3 separate regions of the Homo sapiens genome follow, and all the other regions are linked to region 2. Evidence: fine-mapped expression QTL. A gene starts in region 2. Each other region holds a variant in brackets. All regions are shown on one strand. Distances are between the middles of the regions. Region 1 overlaps COLGALT2 (collagen beta(1-O)galactosyltransferase 2). Region 2 holds the start of COLGALT2 (collagen beta(1-O)galactosyltransferase 2). Region 3 overlaps COLGALT2 (collagen beta(1-O)galactosyltransferase 2).

Region 1 (5,227 bases), 93 kb after region 2:
ATGGTCTTTATGGTCTAAAAAATGGTATTTCTTAGAGAATGTTCTATGCACACTTGAAAGTGTGTATTTGGCTATTGTTGGGTGGAATGTTCTATAGATGTCTGCTAGGTCTGATTATTTTAAGATATTATTCAAGTCTTCTGTTTCCTTGTCTTCCTCCTGCCTAGTTCTATTATTGCAGGTGGGATATTGATGTCTTCCCCTATTATTGTTGAATTGTCTGTTTCTCCTTTCAATTCTTCCAGTTTCATGGTTCTGAGGTTCTGTTAGGTGCATATGTATTTATAATTGTTATGCCTTCCTGATGGATTGACCTTTTTTTTTTGAGATGGAGTCTTGCCCTGTCACCCAGGCTGCAGTGCAATGGCACGATCTTGGCTCACTGCAAGCTCCAGCTCCCAGATTCACACCATTCTCCTGCCTCAGCCTCCCAAGTAGCTGGGACTACAGGCACCCACCACCATGGCCGGCTAATTTTTTGTATTTTTAGTAGAGATGGGGTTTCACCGTGTTAGCCAGGATGGTCTCGATCTCCAGACCTTCTGATCTGCCCACCTCGGCCTCCCAAAGTCGTGGGATTACAGGCGTGAGCCACCACTCCCGGCCCAGATTAACCTTTTTATCATTAAAAAATGTCCTTCCTTGGCTCTAGCATGAATTTTGTCTGAGATTTATTTTGCCCAATATTAGCATAGCTCTGCCAGCTCTCTTGTCATTGCTGATTATATGGTATATCTTTTTCTATTCTTTTACTTTCAACCTATTTTTGTCTTTTAATCTAAAGGCTGCCTCTTATAGATACCACATGGTTGTATTAATTTTTAAAACTTACTATGCCAAATTCTTCCTTCATTGCAGTGTTTTATTCATTTGCCTTCACTACATTTTTTTCCAGATCCTTAAGGTCAGCCAGAGGTGAGAGACTAGGGACTTCTCAAGTTTTTCCTGGGCGTGTGGACAGCCCTGAATATGCCTGGGGCCTTCTAGATTCTCAGGGATATTTTGGAGCAAATCAAACTCCCTATGGACCTCTTATTCCTTGGTTTTTCCTTTTAAGTTTTTTGGTGGGCTTCTTGTTAGCATCAGCTGATAATGCTTCTCAAACAGCTGTAATGTTAAACAGTTGTTGCTCATGGGTTTTGACAAATGACCTGCAGATAGTGCTGTTCACAGAAAATGAACTCTGAGTCAGGTCAAATCAAGACAAGCTCTGAGAATGTAGCTTTTCAAGGAGCTACTAGACAGGTTGAATAGAGATTATTTTCTGGGGGCAGGTCTTTAAGGGAGTCTCAGTCCATTTTGTCCCTGCCAGTGGCTTCTGGGTTGGTGGGGTTTGCCGCTCTCTTAGTTGTGAGGCTACTGGTTTTCAAGGCTTTTGTAGGGCTGGGGTGAACAGGTTAGGATTAGGGCAGCTGTGAACTTCACAAAGCTCACTGTGTTAACAGAGATTCAGCAGTAGGTCTTGATCAAACACTCCTTGGATTATTGCAGTACTTTAACTAATTTCCATAGGAGTGTACTTATTAAATCTTGTCAAAAAACTGATGATGCTTAGAACTATGTTGGGCACTATGAGGGATACACAAAAATATGATACCCTCTTGTCTTCCCAGACCTCATAATACTAGTGTGACACATTAGCCTGGAGGAACTTCTAAGGAATAAAGGGAAGCCTCTCTGTCTTTGTCTGTGTGGGGGAGGGGTGTTTGCAGAACTAACTCTCTCTTTCTCTGGCCTTTGTGGTGGGGACCTTTGACTTGTTAATCTCCAGACGTGTTTTATGTGATGCAGGGCACTCAACACAAGCCAGCTGAAGGCACTGAATATTGAAATGCTGCCTGGCTATCGAGATCCCTATTCCTCCAGGCCTCTAACAAGGGGTGAAATCGGCTGCTTTCTCAGCCACTACTCAGTCTGGAAAGAGGTAAATAATGCTTTATTCAGATTGCAGTTTTATGATGAGGAGAAAGGAAAGCAGGCTATCGTAGGTGAGTTAGGGCCAGATGTAAAGTGAGCCCGCAACTGTTCTGGAAATGTGCATGAGAGCTGCTCCTGCCTTGTGTCTCCCTCTGACCCAAGACCAGCAACAAAGGGGCAAGGAGGAGTAGCTTTGGTGCCACTTGGGGTGGTGACGGGGGAGACACCCATGTCCTGTGTGCCACACTCTTATTAATTCATTATCATCATTAGCAGGAATGCCTTCTATTATACCTATTATGACATCACTTATTAAGTGATTTTATACAAGAAATCACACAGAAGTCATGTGAGGTGGGTTGGGAAGGACAGACCACCTTTACCGAAGAAGAAATTATTAAGTAGCTTGACCCGGTAAGAAGTGGCAGAGCCAGAAGTGGAACCCCTGTCTTACAGATCAAGACATATCTGGAGCAGATATTGGTGTGTGGGGTTCCTGATAAACAGTCAGTTTCCACAACCAAAAAGAAAGTCCCTGAAGAAAGGCCCCTTGAACACTTTCTCTTTTAATGATCCAGTCTATGCCTGCCTTTGTTTTCTTTAAACTTTAAGTGAAATGTGATAAATAGGTATAAAAAGATATAGATCAAAAGATACAGCTCAGGGAAATTTCACAAACCAAACAACACACCCATGTTAATCAGTACACAGATCCAGAAGCAGGTAACCAGCATCCCACAAGCACCCCCCCACCCCGTACTGCCTTCTGGTCATCAGTCCCCAAGGGCAGTCACCATCCTGACTTCTAAAGGCATTGAATAGCTTTACCTTTGTTTGTACTTTCCCTTATATGAATGGAATCATGCAGTATGTGTACTCTCCTAACATGACATTTAGGAGATTCACCTATAACGTTGCGTTTAATTGTGATCATATATCCTCACTGCTGTGAATATTCCAAAGTTTATTATCTATTCTACTGTTGATGGCCATTTGCTTAGATTCCAGTTATGAATCTGTGCTACTAGACTC[G/A]TGACTTTTTAATACTTATTTATCTAATAAAAATTGGGTTTCAAACTTTTCATAGGGTATCTTCCTACTGATGACTTTTGCAGGTAATTGATCGAGAGCTAGAGAAGACTCTTGTAATTGAAGACGATGTGCGTTTTGAGCATCAGTTTAAGAAGAAGCTGATGAAGCTGATGGATAACATTGACCAGGCTCAGCTGGACTGGGAACTGATGTGAGTGACAAGATGATCTTACGAGAGGGCTCTGAGAGGCACTCAGTCCTTTCCAATGCGCAGAGAGCCCCACCTCCACAGCCAGTAGGAGATACAGCTTAAGCTTCCACTTATCTAGTTTTCTTTCCATAAATGTTCTCAGAAATAAAAATGGGTAGAGGTTAGCCACTGGATTTTGCATCCTTCTACTCTTCAGGGTGGGAAACTGTGGAAGATTGTCTGAGACCTGGAGTCGGCCTGCAGATCAGGGACCTTCAGACAGAACCAAGGTGTGGCACTGAGCACTTACTTAGGAGCACAGCAGAAATCCCACCCTCAATTAACGTGGCACATGGAGTGGGTGTGAAGCTGGAGAAGAGGCCATTTATTCAAGCTCTAAAGTCCTGTGTCATATTTAAGACTCAGCTCCCGGGACAGCAGGTTGCCTCTGCAGCTTCCGAGAAGGTGGGAGGTTAGAGGGTCAGCCAGGGAGCTCCTCTGTTGGGAAATGGGGCTGCACAAACATGAAGAACATGGACAACTAGATTTGGGGAAGGGTCTGAGGCTGATGCAGGAAAACCAGGCTCACCAAGGGAGTGCTGGCTCTGAGCTGACATTTAGTTAATGTTCTTTGTCTACTCTCTGGGAATTGAGTGGCTTCTGCTTTTTTCTTCCCTTCCCTTTCATTTTTCCTTCCCTTCCCTTTCATTTTTCCTCTCCCTCTCTCCCTTCCTCTTTCCTTTTTCTTCTTCCTCCTCTGCCTCCTCCTTTCTCTCTCTCATTTTCTTTTTAAAACAAATGACACTTTCAATTTCTCTCCAATGAAGCAGAAAGTTCCCAAGCATTGTGTTTGCTCCCAGCTGTGTGTCAAAGGCAATTCATCAACTCTGAGCCTGCTTCTTTGGAGCAGCTGCAGCAGAGGAGCTGTCCCTGCTTCTCCCACCCACAGGCGGTATTTAACTGTGGGCCCAGGTGGAATACTTGTTCCCTCAGAAAATGGGCCACTCTGAGCTCAGAAGAAACCTAGCAATGGCTCAACTAATGCGTCACTGTGTAATAAGACACCTATGCCCTGTCAGATTTCAGTCATGTGGTCATGTGGTTTGGTTTGGCATTCTGCACAGTCCCTTGAGATCACTGTTTCTTCCTATATCCTCCAGAAGTCGCTGCACTTCAGCCTTTCTCAATGGATGGCTCCGCAGCCTGTGGTTAAGGCCTCACAGGCCTGGAAGCTACTTGATGTCCACGTGACTTGTATAAAGGCAACTTCACTTAAGCCTCATAATCACAGAAGACTGAGCCCAGAGAATCTAAGGTTTAGAGCTGGCATACGTTCCCGTTCACATGTAGTTCGGTGGGTGCATTTCTCAGGACAAAGTACCGACAGATGCAAGAAGGAAGAACAGTTGTCTTGATAAGGATACAGGAAAAAAATGTTTTCTAAATTTCACAGGTTGATCAAGTCAAAATATCCCCTTAAAATCTATTATATAGTCTTAAAGAACTGTAACAGTTTTAAATTGTACCTGTTATTTTCTAAAACAAAAAAGAAACAAATGTTACTTAAACCTAAAACATGAAAGGTAATAAGCTGTTCATGATTGCCACATTACATCTTTCCAGGAAAAGAAAATAATAAAAGGGAAGAATAGAACAAGTCATTGGAATCATTGAGGGAGTGTTGTTCAATAGAAATATAATGCAAGCCACATATGTCATTTTCAGTTTTCTAGTAATCACATTAAAAAGGTAAAAATAAATTAGACTAAATTAGTTTTAATACATTTTATTTAACAAAAATATCCAAACAGTATCATCATTTTGGTATGTAATTAATATTTTAAAACCATTAATGACATAGTTTACCTTCTTTTTTTTTTTGTACCAACTCTTCAAAATCTGGTATGTATTTTACACTTAGAACACCTCTCAATCCAGAAGCTAAATTTTCAGCTGTTTAAGTAAACTGGGCTGGGCGCAGTGGCTCACGCCTGTAATCCCAGCACTTTGGGAGGCCGAGGCGGGTGGATCACGAGGTCAGGAGATCGAGACCATCCTGGCTAACACGGTGAAACCACGTCTCTAGTA
Region 2 (5,227 bases):
ATGTGTGTACAACCCTGACTTTCCATTCAGCCGATTTTCCATGGAAAGAGCATTATAAGCAATGAATATTTTAAAATATAATTGGCTTTTATTTTTAAATTAGTTTTTTTTTTCAAATTAACTGTCTTATAACATCAATCCTATGCGGGGGGGAAACATCCAAATTCACATTACTGATTTCTGAAGAACTTATGAAACAAATCTGTTAGTAAGATGGGGACTTAATTTTTCCCAGGCTTCCCCTCCACTGCCTCCCAACCATATTTACAATGATCTTCTACTGTTGCATACCCTGTTATTACCTTAATATTCTCAGTCACTAAATGAGCACTCAATTAAAAGTTTTAAATAGGTGTTTTGTAGGTTATGTGGCTGGGAAACCCTTGATTTCATCTACAGAGCAGAGCAGGTTGTAGTTATTTTAAGAGAACTCCATGGAGCCGATTTCATTATAATGTCATTAGAGACCATACAGGTTTAGATGCTTCACCTTTCTTTGAAAAAATAGACTCAGATAAGCTGTTGACTTTAGGTAACTGTATTAGTCTGTCCTCACGCTGTGAATAAAGACATAGCTGAGATTGGGTAATTTATAAAGAAAAAGAAGTTTAGTGGACTCACAGTTCCACATAGCTGGGGAGGCCTCACAATCATGGCAGAAGGCAAAGGAGGAGCAAAGACACACCTTACATGGCGGCAGGCAAGGGAGCATGTGCAGGGGAACTGCCCTTTATAAAACCATCAGATCTTGTGAGGCTTATTCACTATCACGAGACTAGCATGGGAAAAACCTGCCCCCATGATTCAATTACGTCCCACGACACGTGGGGATTATGGGAGCTATAATTCGATGTGAGATTTGGGTGAGGACATAGGCAGACCATATCAGTAACAGAAGGAAAATAAGACAGAAATGTGGTTGCCTAGCTTTAAACTCCCTCTGTTTGCAGTAAAGTGAACAAATGATAACTATCAAACCAAGTTTGGCTAAGGAGTGCGGATTTTAGTATTGAAAGATGAGTGGGACATAGTTCAAGAAAGGGAAACAAGAAAGACAGAACAACATGGAGATTGTCTGGACCTTTCTAACAGTCCCATCACTACCTCCCTTGTGGAAATGACCACATCTTCCTCTATCCCTTCACTGTAGCTGGTACATCTGTTACAGTACTTCTAACAGATGTTTAACTCTCAGTCTTCCCTACAAGACTGTGAGCCCCTTGAAAGTGGGAACAATTCCTGAAAATGGATGGAGGGGAAGGAAATGTCTGTAGGCCATTCGATAAAAAAATATGAAGATTAGAGAAGAGATTAGAGCAGAAGACATAGATTTTGAGGATATAACCACAGGAGACCATATGGAGTGGGAAGACTAGCACACTATAGGGAGGCACACAGTGAAGGGGCTTGGCTCAGAGACAAGTAGTATCAGAGGAGATCTAGGATGGGAGATTATGTAATCGAAGTCCAGGAAGGTGAGAACGGAAGAGTTTACTGAATCTGCCAATGCTGAGGCCATCTGTTGGTTTTGCAGAACAGTGGGGAGGGCTGACGCCTTACTGCACTGTGGTGGGAAAGATGGGAGATGAAGAAGTGGAGAATACAAGTATAGATCTCTCTTCCAAGGAGCTTGGTCAAGCAAAGGGATGACTAGAAGAAGACACAGGACTTTTTTTTAAAGCTTTTCTTTCTTTTTTTTTTAACGGATAAGAGAAGACTGACCAAGTATTTAGCTTGAGAGAAAGGAGTTGATAGAGATCAGTTGAAGATTCAGTAGAGAGTGGAATGATAGAGAAAAATCATGGGCTAGAAAGGGAGACCTCTCCCTTTCTAGTCTGTGATCAAAGACCCTGTCGTGAGGAGGCACCTGCAAGTAAGAAAGGTCTTGGTAGGGATGCTAGTTGGAGACAGTGGTGTTGGGGGAGCTGGATGAAGGAGGTGATATACTTCAAAAGACAGTAGGGAAGACTTCTAATAGTTGCTGAGAAGGATTGATAACAACTAATAAAAAGACTATGGGACAGACCTGAGGGTGAGTTGGGATTGGAGATCATGAATGTGCACTGGCACCAAAACACCCTCCATACTTATCTATCAAAGGCTACACAATATATCTTCAAAACTAAATATCCAGCCGAGCATGGTGGCTGATGCCTGTAATCGTAACACTTTGGGAGGCCGAGTTGGGCAGATCACTTGAGCCCAGGAGTTCCAGACCAGCCTGGGCAAAATGGTGAAAACCCGTCTCTACAAAAAAAAAAAAAAAAAAAAAAATTAGCTAGGCGTGGTGATGGACACCTGTGGTCCCAGCTACTCGGGAGGCTGAGGTGGGAGGATTGCTTGAGCCCAGGAGGTCGAGGCTGCAGTGAATTGTGATCGTGCCTCTGCACTCCAGCCCCGGCAACAGAGTGAGGCCCTGTCTCAAAAAAAAAAAAAAAAAAAAAGTAAATCTCCTTTAGCAGTGTATGCCAGCAGTTTCATTTTATGTGCTAATTGTGTTCTTCCTTCACCCCTTCTTTTCTTCCTTATCTCTTCTCTGCTCTCCAACATGCGCGAATTTTCCCTCTTTGTTACTCTATCATATTGGCTTATTACGGAAAAAGAAAACCAGCTAAGTGAATTTATTCTTTCACAGCCCTCCTGTGAGGAGGCTTACTGGGTTCACAGTAGAGTGAGGCTTCAGGACAGTGTCTCCCAAGGGCTTTCTTTTATTTTGCGGGGTCTGATCTGGCTCCAAAATTCTCCAAGTCTTCAAACTTTGTGTTATTAGGTGTCTACTCAGTCAAGAATGAATTTCAGAAGTTGAGTATATAAGAAAATGCGACATGCTGCCTTTGCGGTGGTTAAACAAGTGTTTGTCATAATCGTGAATAGTTGGGGAGACTTTTCATTTTAGAACTCTACTCAGTCAATAGGTGCATTATGAAAACTGGATACATTGCATCACTGTGAAGGGCTTCAGTCTGCGGTTTGCAAAAGCAGAATAAATTTTCTTGGGGTTGTACCGTTATGTACACACACACACACACACACACACACACACACACACACTCACAGGCTCATTGGCAGACAGGGCCACAACTCGCGGCTCTAGGGAAGGCCACAGACCTCAGCTGTACGAGCGGAACCTGGACTAGAGGAACTTTCCTCAGGACTCAGGGCACACAGCCCCTCGGCCACTACTGTCTGCGAGCCCGAGGCGCAGGGGAGCGCCAGCGGCTGCAGGTACGCTGCGCACCCGCACTGGGGCCTGGGCGGTGCAGCGGCGGCGGGAGGGTCCTGGGAACCGCAGCCGCCGAGGCCAGTGTGTGAGCCGGCCGGCCGCGGCAAGCCGCATCCCCCGGCCGCCCCTCGCAGCCCCTTGCTCCCCGGCAGCCGCCGCCGCCCTCAGGCAGCCCAGCCGGGCGCTCGCGCCAGGACTTCCCCGCCGCCCGCCTCGGCCCGGAACATGGCTGCGCGCCCTGCTGCCACCCTCGCCTGGTCGCTACTGCTCCTCTCCTCAGCCCTGCTCCGCGAAGGCTGCCGAGCGCGCTTCGTCGCCGAGCGGGACTCGGAGGACGACGGAGAGGAGCCGGTGGTTTTCCCGGAGTCGCCCCTGCAGAGCCCCACGGTGCTCGTGGCGGTCCTCGCCCGCAACGCGGCGCACACGCTGCCGCACTTCCTCGGCTGCCTGGAGCGGCTGGACTACCCCAAGAGCAGGATGGCCATCTGGTGAGCGCGCACGGGCCCCGGGCCGCCGCGGCGGGACGCGGGGGCGGCCTGCCCAGCGCGGACAGCGCCCGGAGCAGCAGCTGCAGGGCGAGGGAGCCGCTGGAGGGGCGGGGGGGCACGCGGAAAATCTGGCGCACACACCCCCTCGCTGCCCGCGCCGGTGGCTGGCGGATCGGGCGGTCAGGCTGCGGAGGGACGCGCGGGTCAGTGTGCGCAGAGGGTGCTGATGGGGAGAACCGGACCGCTGGAGCTCTGGAGGGTAGCCTGCGAATTGGGGCTTTGTCCCACAAGGGGCATGGGGGACACCCCTCAAGGGGACTTTCAGTTCCCTCGCTTTTAACTCTCGAGGTTTCCTCTTTCCCCACCTCATACTGCTAGCCCTGACGTGAGGGGATAGGGTGCCTGTCGCCGTATTCCCATGTAGATACGACAGATGGAACGTAACTGCGGTTGGCCAGGGGCTCCGCAGTGGCTGGGGCGCCGCAGTGCGCTGCTCTGACTTTCCGGTGCCGGGCTCCTGCTCCAGGCTGGAAATGTGCTCCTAGCTCTCCTAGGGGGACCTGGACCTAGGGGTGGAGATTGGGCGGAGCCCGCGGAGTGTGCCCAACCATGGCACCACCGTGGGCCTGGTCTCCTGCGAGCGCTCCGGGCTGTCCCTGCCGGTGCATCGGGGTTCCACGTCCCGGGGAGAGACGAAGATGCCCTGGGAAAGATAAACAGCCAAGTTTTGTCCCCGGAGGAAAGAAGCTTGGACCTGGTCCCTGTGTCTGCTGCGGGGAGGGCCAGGGGATAAGTGCGGGTGCCTGCCCGCCCCACCTTGTAGAACTTGGTCGTCTCGCACCTTTTATAAACGCGAGGATCCGAGGGCGAGAAGTTAGTTGGTGGCCAGGTTAGCCGCTGAGTGGGTTGTGGAGGACAAGGAGGTGGATGCTGGCCAGGGGAGATGTGCTGTCAGGTAGGTACTCGGACAAGAAGACTCTGGCCCCCTGAGGAAGACAGAGCCCAGGTCACTCTGGAGCAATTTCTGTCTTGTGTTGATAAAGGGAGCTGTTCTCAGGCGAGACACATCCTTAAAGCAGCGGTTGGGCAAAGAGAGGAAGAGGAGTAAAAGCAGCAGCTAGAATTGGCAGCCTCAGAGTACCTGGTGGGAGAGGTGCAAAGGTGCGAAAGCAAACATGTGATATAGTACAGCTCTGTGCTGTACACTGCTTTACTATATACCCTGCCATACGTGACCGCCTGGCGGAGAAGGGCATATTATGTGGAAAGAGAGCACTGGGACAGCCAGGCTTTAAACCAGAAGGAAGGATTTTTTTTTAACCACTTCGGTACCAAAAGAAATTCACACATATCAGTTACCTTAGTTGTTGTGTTTTTTTTAAGAGATATTTTAAAATATGGTTTTGATCTTTATGCATGATTTAGTTTTTTAAAACGTTACAGTATTTACCATAAGAAGTTGGTGAGTGGTGAAGCAGGTGTCAGGCACATGCTTTGCTACCTGATTTAGAGACAT
Region 3 (5,227 bases), 67 kb after region 2:
AGCCAATTCCTGATTCAGGAATTACTATTTTTAATTAATTCTTTTTGTCCTTACAAAACTAACATAAGAACACTATAGAAAAACTTAGAAATTAAAAAAAGTTTAAAAGAAAACCAACAAGACAGATGTTAAATCCCCATCACCGTAACAACATCATAGATAGAAACTTGCACGTTTTTAGTAACTGTGTTATCATCAAGTGGCTATGTTCCAATTTACTTAACCTTTATCTCGGTTTGAAAAACATTTAAATTATTCACAACTTTTTAACTATCGTGACCGTCATGATTAATATAATTTTTCAGCATTTAAGATTATATCCTTAGGATAGCTTTTTAGAAGTGGAATTACTGAGTCAAACAGTACAAATATGCCAGGCGCGGTGGCTCACACCTGTGATCCCAGCACTTTGGGAGGCCAAGGCGGGCGGATTACAAGGTCAGGAGATTGAGACCATCCTGGCTAACATGGTGAAACCTCATCTCTACTAAAAATATAAAAAATTAGCCAGGCGTGGTGTTGGGCGCCTATAGTCCCAGCTACTCGGAAGGCTGAGGCAGGAGAATGGCGTGAACTTGGGAGGCGGAGCTTGCAGTGAGCCGAGGTCGCGCCACTGCGCTCCAGCCTGGGTGACAGAGCGAGACTCCCTCTCAAAAAAGAAAAAAAAAAAAAAAGTACAAATATTTCAATGACCTTCGATGTATGTTGCCAAATTTATTTCCAAAGAGTTCTAATAATGAAAACTACCATGGTAGGTTATTTTTATAAAATTCAAGTTAAAAAAGGTTTGATTTTTTATTATTTCTTTTTTTCATAGTAAAATCTTCAAAATAGTGGTCTGTTTTAGTGAATGCTCATGGCTGGTTATATTTTTTATTCTTTAATTAAAGAATTAGATAAATTCAACTGATTAATGTAATATGTATCAATGTAGGATAAAAATGTGCTAAGCAAAATATGTTGGCCAGGAGCAGTGTCTCATGCCTGTAATTTCAACACTTTGGGAAGCTGAGGTAGGACAATTACTTGAACCCAGGAGTTTGAGACCAACATGAGCAACATGGCGAAACCACATCTCTACAACAAATCAAAAAATTAACCAGTTGTGGTGTCGTGCACACCTATAGTTCCATCTATTCGGGAGGCTGAGCAGGGAGTATTGCTTGAGCCCAAGAAGTTGAGGCTGCAGTGAGCTATGATCACACCACTGCACTGCAGCCTAAGCAACTGAGACCCTGTCTCAAAAAAAGAGGGAGTATGTTCAATGTATTCTCATGGCCAAAGGGCTAAAGTTTGAGTCTCCCCTTTATATTTGGTTTTGTTTTGGATGAGAAATAAGGTCAGTAGTGTGCTGATAAATGTTTAATAACTGGCTCTTTGTGGGAAAAACCCTAGTTGGTAGCATTGCCAATTTTTATGGTTTAAATACTCCCACCATGCAAACAGCTTAAATGTTGTTAAGCTAAGGGAAAGGTTAAGTAAACTGCAGTATAGCCACTTGATGATACAGCTATTAAAAACATGTAAAACTGCCACATGAGGTGTCATTAGAGTGGTGGGGATTAACGTGATTTTTGTTTTTATGGATTCCAAGCTATCAACATGTCAACTGGTTTGCAAACTTTCTGAAAATTTAACAATGTGTGGTCCAGTACACCACTGGATGAAGCATTCCTCTTTTGTTGTAATTATTTCTTCTAGCTGTAAGAGATTTTGAATGCGTGCTATTTTCTGTGTCTCTTTTGGGAAGGTAATATGTTCATATTTCTAACAGCCATTCACTTCCTTGGGAGAAAACATTATATTGGTTTAAATTCATACATTTTCAGTGTTTCACATGGCAGAATCACTTGAGGGTTGTTTTTAATGAGTTGTGCTTTGACATCAGCAACAAGGGTGGGTTATCCTAGTGGCCGCAGCCTACAAATTTGTATTATCTCCTTATTTACTTTCAGGCTTAAAAGCAAATAGGAGAA[A/G]TGTGCTCACTTGTTTTGTACAGTAAAACTAAATTCTGAGCAACTTAGGGACAAGTATTATTTTCCTCCATTTATTTTTGGCTTTCTACCATCCCAGTTAGTCTCTACTAGAGCAGGAATAGAAAGGGCCAGTGACTTCATAAATTCAAAGCAGGACCTGGTTCCCAGAGCCTTTAAACTCATTCAAAACAAAATGTCCTTGATGTTGTCTGGCCAATGAACAGGAATTATTACCAACAAGATTCAATTTATGTGGAAAAAGGAACACATTCATCATCTCTGCCTCTTTGCAGGAGGCACATTTATTCTCCCTCACTCTCCCTGCTTCCTTCCTTCTCACCCCCACCCCAAGGATATTCAGTGATTCATCATCATCATGGATTTTCCAAGCTAATCATTCTGGGAATATTGTTCCTAAGTAATCTAGAACTTTATATTAGACGCAAGTACTTAGGCAGCCCTTTAAAAAACCCGAGTCCCCTTTATCTCTTGGAAGACTGCTCATAAGCTGAAGTATTAGGAAAACCATAGAGGATGTTAAATGATCCTTAAGTTAAAGGCTAATAAAAACATTATAGTAATGATAATACTTCATATAATGAATTGCAGTTCCCAAAATAGGTTCATAGACCTTATCACATGTGATTCATTCTGCAGCTCTATGAGATTGACAGAGCAGCTGTTATCCCATTTTTCAGGAGAAAAAACTCAGGCTCAAAGAGGGTAGGCATGGACTAAGATCAAACGGCTAGAAGGTGATTAAGATGACTCTGAGACCCACATCTTCTGAGTCCTCATTTTTGATCCTCCTCCCTTATCATGGGGTCGGCATTAGGGTTAGCTCAGCTAGGACACTCTTCTAGAACCTGAAGGGAATGTCAGAGAAGTAGGTGAGGCTGTAGCACCTTATGTGTGGATGCTGAATTACAACAGGAAATGTAACCATGAAGTGATGCAACTGATTAATGAACACATAAGAACTTCCAGAGTATGGTGCCCTTCGGAGTGCTGGCTTTGCAAAACTTAACACTCATTCCAGTGAGCCTGCCATCACCTAGAACATTTTCCAAAATGCCTGGCAAAGCTTCCACAAGTATGTTTTGTAAGCATGTTTTGTTGAGATATATCTTCATCTTTTCTGGAAATGATTCAAGCTTTGGAATAAGGAAATTGGTTGTCCTGTGTGCTTGTGCAGAAGGACGTTTCAGAAGCTGAATCCCCAAAAACTATGGAGCAGCTGCAGCTTCACCAGAATATTGACTAAGTAACTGCATTGAAAGAAGACCCTCATTTGTATATCTAAGTAATGCATGTTTAATTACAAATATTAGCCACAGTGTAATGTCATTTTAATAGGAGCCGGTATTTGCTGATACATTCTTGGTGCTGGGCAGTAGTCTCAACACTATTCAGGTTCTACCTTACTTAAATTTTACAGCTAACCCCATGGAGTAGATAGTGCCGTCATCCCTGTTTTAGAGATGAGGAAATAAGCGCAGCAAGGTTGAGTCACTTGACCCATACCTACAGACAATAAGTAGCTGAGGTAGGATTTGAACTCAGGGAGTCTGACACTGGAACCTGTGCCCTTAACTGCTCTGCCACTTCTTAATACTCATGCTTCATATTTAATCATAAGTCAACATAAAATACACTTTTATGAAATTATTAAATCTAGAGATATGCTGAAATAAAAGTTACTTCTTATATCAAGACCCTTTTAGTATTATTTTATATGTAGACAGCATTTCTTGTGCTCACTTGGAAATTCATAGGCCATGATAAGAGGAGTGAAGGTGGCTTTGTTTGGGAGCTTGTATATAGCTGGTAATGACTTGAAAGGAATCAGTCTAGCAAATGACTGAGAAGGATGAAGACTTCAAATCAGAAAACACAACCCACCTATTTGCTCTTTTACAGGGCTTCTATAAGAGGACCCCAGACTACGTTCAGATTCGAGAATGGAAGAGGACAGGCTGCTTCCCCGTCCCCATGGTCCACTCCACCTTCCTAATTGACCTCAGGAAGGAGGCCTCGGACAAGCTGACTTTCTACCCCCCACACCAGGACTACACCTGGACCTTTGATGACATCATTGTCTTTGCCTTCTCCAGCAGGCAAGCAGGTACTGTTTGTCTTTGGTTGTAGTGCCACAATGGAGACACAGCAAAATGACCAGCTCCTTTGTTTTGTGCATTTTATTAAAAAAAAAAACCCTCATATGTCTGGTAGTGAGAGGCAGTAAATTGTCTGCAATAACCATACCAGCACCCTCTATGTTGCTGTCCCTGGGAGCACCAATGACCAAGAGCCAGGGCTGGCCTCTACCCAGGAACCCACTCTATTTTGAGTTGGAGGGACTGGTGGTGATATTGGGAATTATGGGAAGGTGATTGCTTCTCTGTGGTGCTACTGCATTGCAATTGTTTATTATAGAAGTTCATTTATTAATTAGGAAACTGTCACAGAGGCCTAAAACAACACTGGCAAAGACCCCAGACTTTAAAAATGGAAGTTTATTTCTTCTTGAAAAAGTCTGAGCTGCTGTAGTGGCTTTGTTCCACAAAGTGTTCAGAGTCCCAGGCTTCTTGTGTATTGCTTCTCACACTCCACGAGGTACTGCCCTTAATTGTGGAGTCCCAGGTGTCTCACCACCATGGATGCGTTTCAGCCAGCAAGGCAGAAACAACAGGGAGAACTCTCCCTGTCCCTTGAAGTGTGCAATCCAGAAGTTGAATGCAGTACTTCCATGCAAATCCTGTTAGCTAGAGCTTAGTCACAGGACAATACCTCACTGTAAGGGAGGCTCAGAATGTCGTCTTTATTCTCTGCATGCATGCACTGCAATTTTCACACTCTAGAAGAAGGAAAGAACAGATAAAGAGGCACCGAACAGTCTCAGCCTCAGTCCCTGTGGAAGGAGAGGCAAAGCGAGACTGAGGTCTTTTATGAACCACTGGGAAAGCATTTCTAGTGGGGCCTGGAGATTTTTGAGAAAGACAAGTCAACAGGAAGGAAAGTTATTTCTCTCATTTCACCCTACACTTGCTTCAGGAGGACAAAATTCACAAGAGCAGTTCAACAGCAAGACACATGGCATCTAACAGAGCAAAGCTTTGTTAGGATAATTCAGACTTTCCTGACAGAAGTTGGGTCCCATTATTAATGTGCCAGAAATGTGTCACTTAACCACTAGCAAAAATACGTTCATAAACCAAGAAGATGGTGAATAAACTCACTGTGGCCATATA

The links. PIP is the estimated chance that this variant, and not a neighbour inherited with it, causes the effect.
Region 1: its variant is fine-mapped to the expression of COLGALT2 in cerebellar hemisphere (GTEx, PIP 0.99). The same link has a PIP of 0.9 or more in whole blood.
Region 3: its variant is fine-mapped to the expression of COLGALT2 in whole blood (TOPMed, PIP above 0.99).

What each region holds. Positions count from the first base shown.
Region 1 is chr1:183,942,129-183,947,355 of GRCh38, reverse strand. It overlaps COLGALT2 (collagen beta(1-O)galactosyltransferase 2), which reads left to right. Exons shown (of 12, transcript NM_015101.4): 9 at 1,792-1,924; 10 at 3,033-3,160. Among named protein-coding and RNA genes, the nearest start is that of COLGALT2, 93 kb to the left of the region's middle. RefSeq lists enhancers at 871-1,713, 1,714-2,556. The variant G/A (reference allele first, on the strand shown) is at 2,950.
Region 2 is chr1:184,035,579-184,040,805 of GRCh38, reverse strand. COLGALT2 (collagen beta(1-O)galactosyltransferase 2) reads left to right here and starts at 3,078. Exons shown (of 12, transcript NM_015101.4): 1 at 3,078-3,711. The coding sequence starts at 3,449. RefSeq lists a silencer at 3,266-3,355.
Region 3 is chr1:183,968,143-183,973,369 of GRCh38, reverse strand. COLGALT2 (collagen beta(1-O)galactosyltransferase 2) reads left to right here. Exons shown (of 12, transcript NM_015101.4): 5 at 3,897-4,101. Among named protein-coding and RNA genes, the nearest start is that of COLGALT2, 67 kb to the left of the region's middle. The variant A/G (reference allele first, on the strand shown) is at 1,977.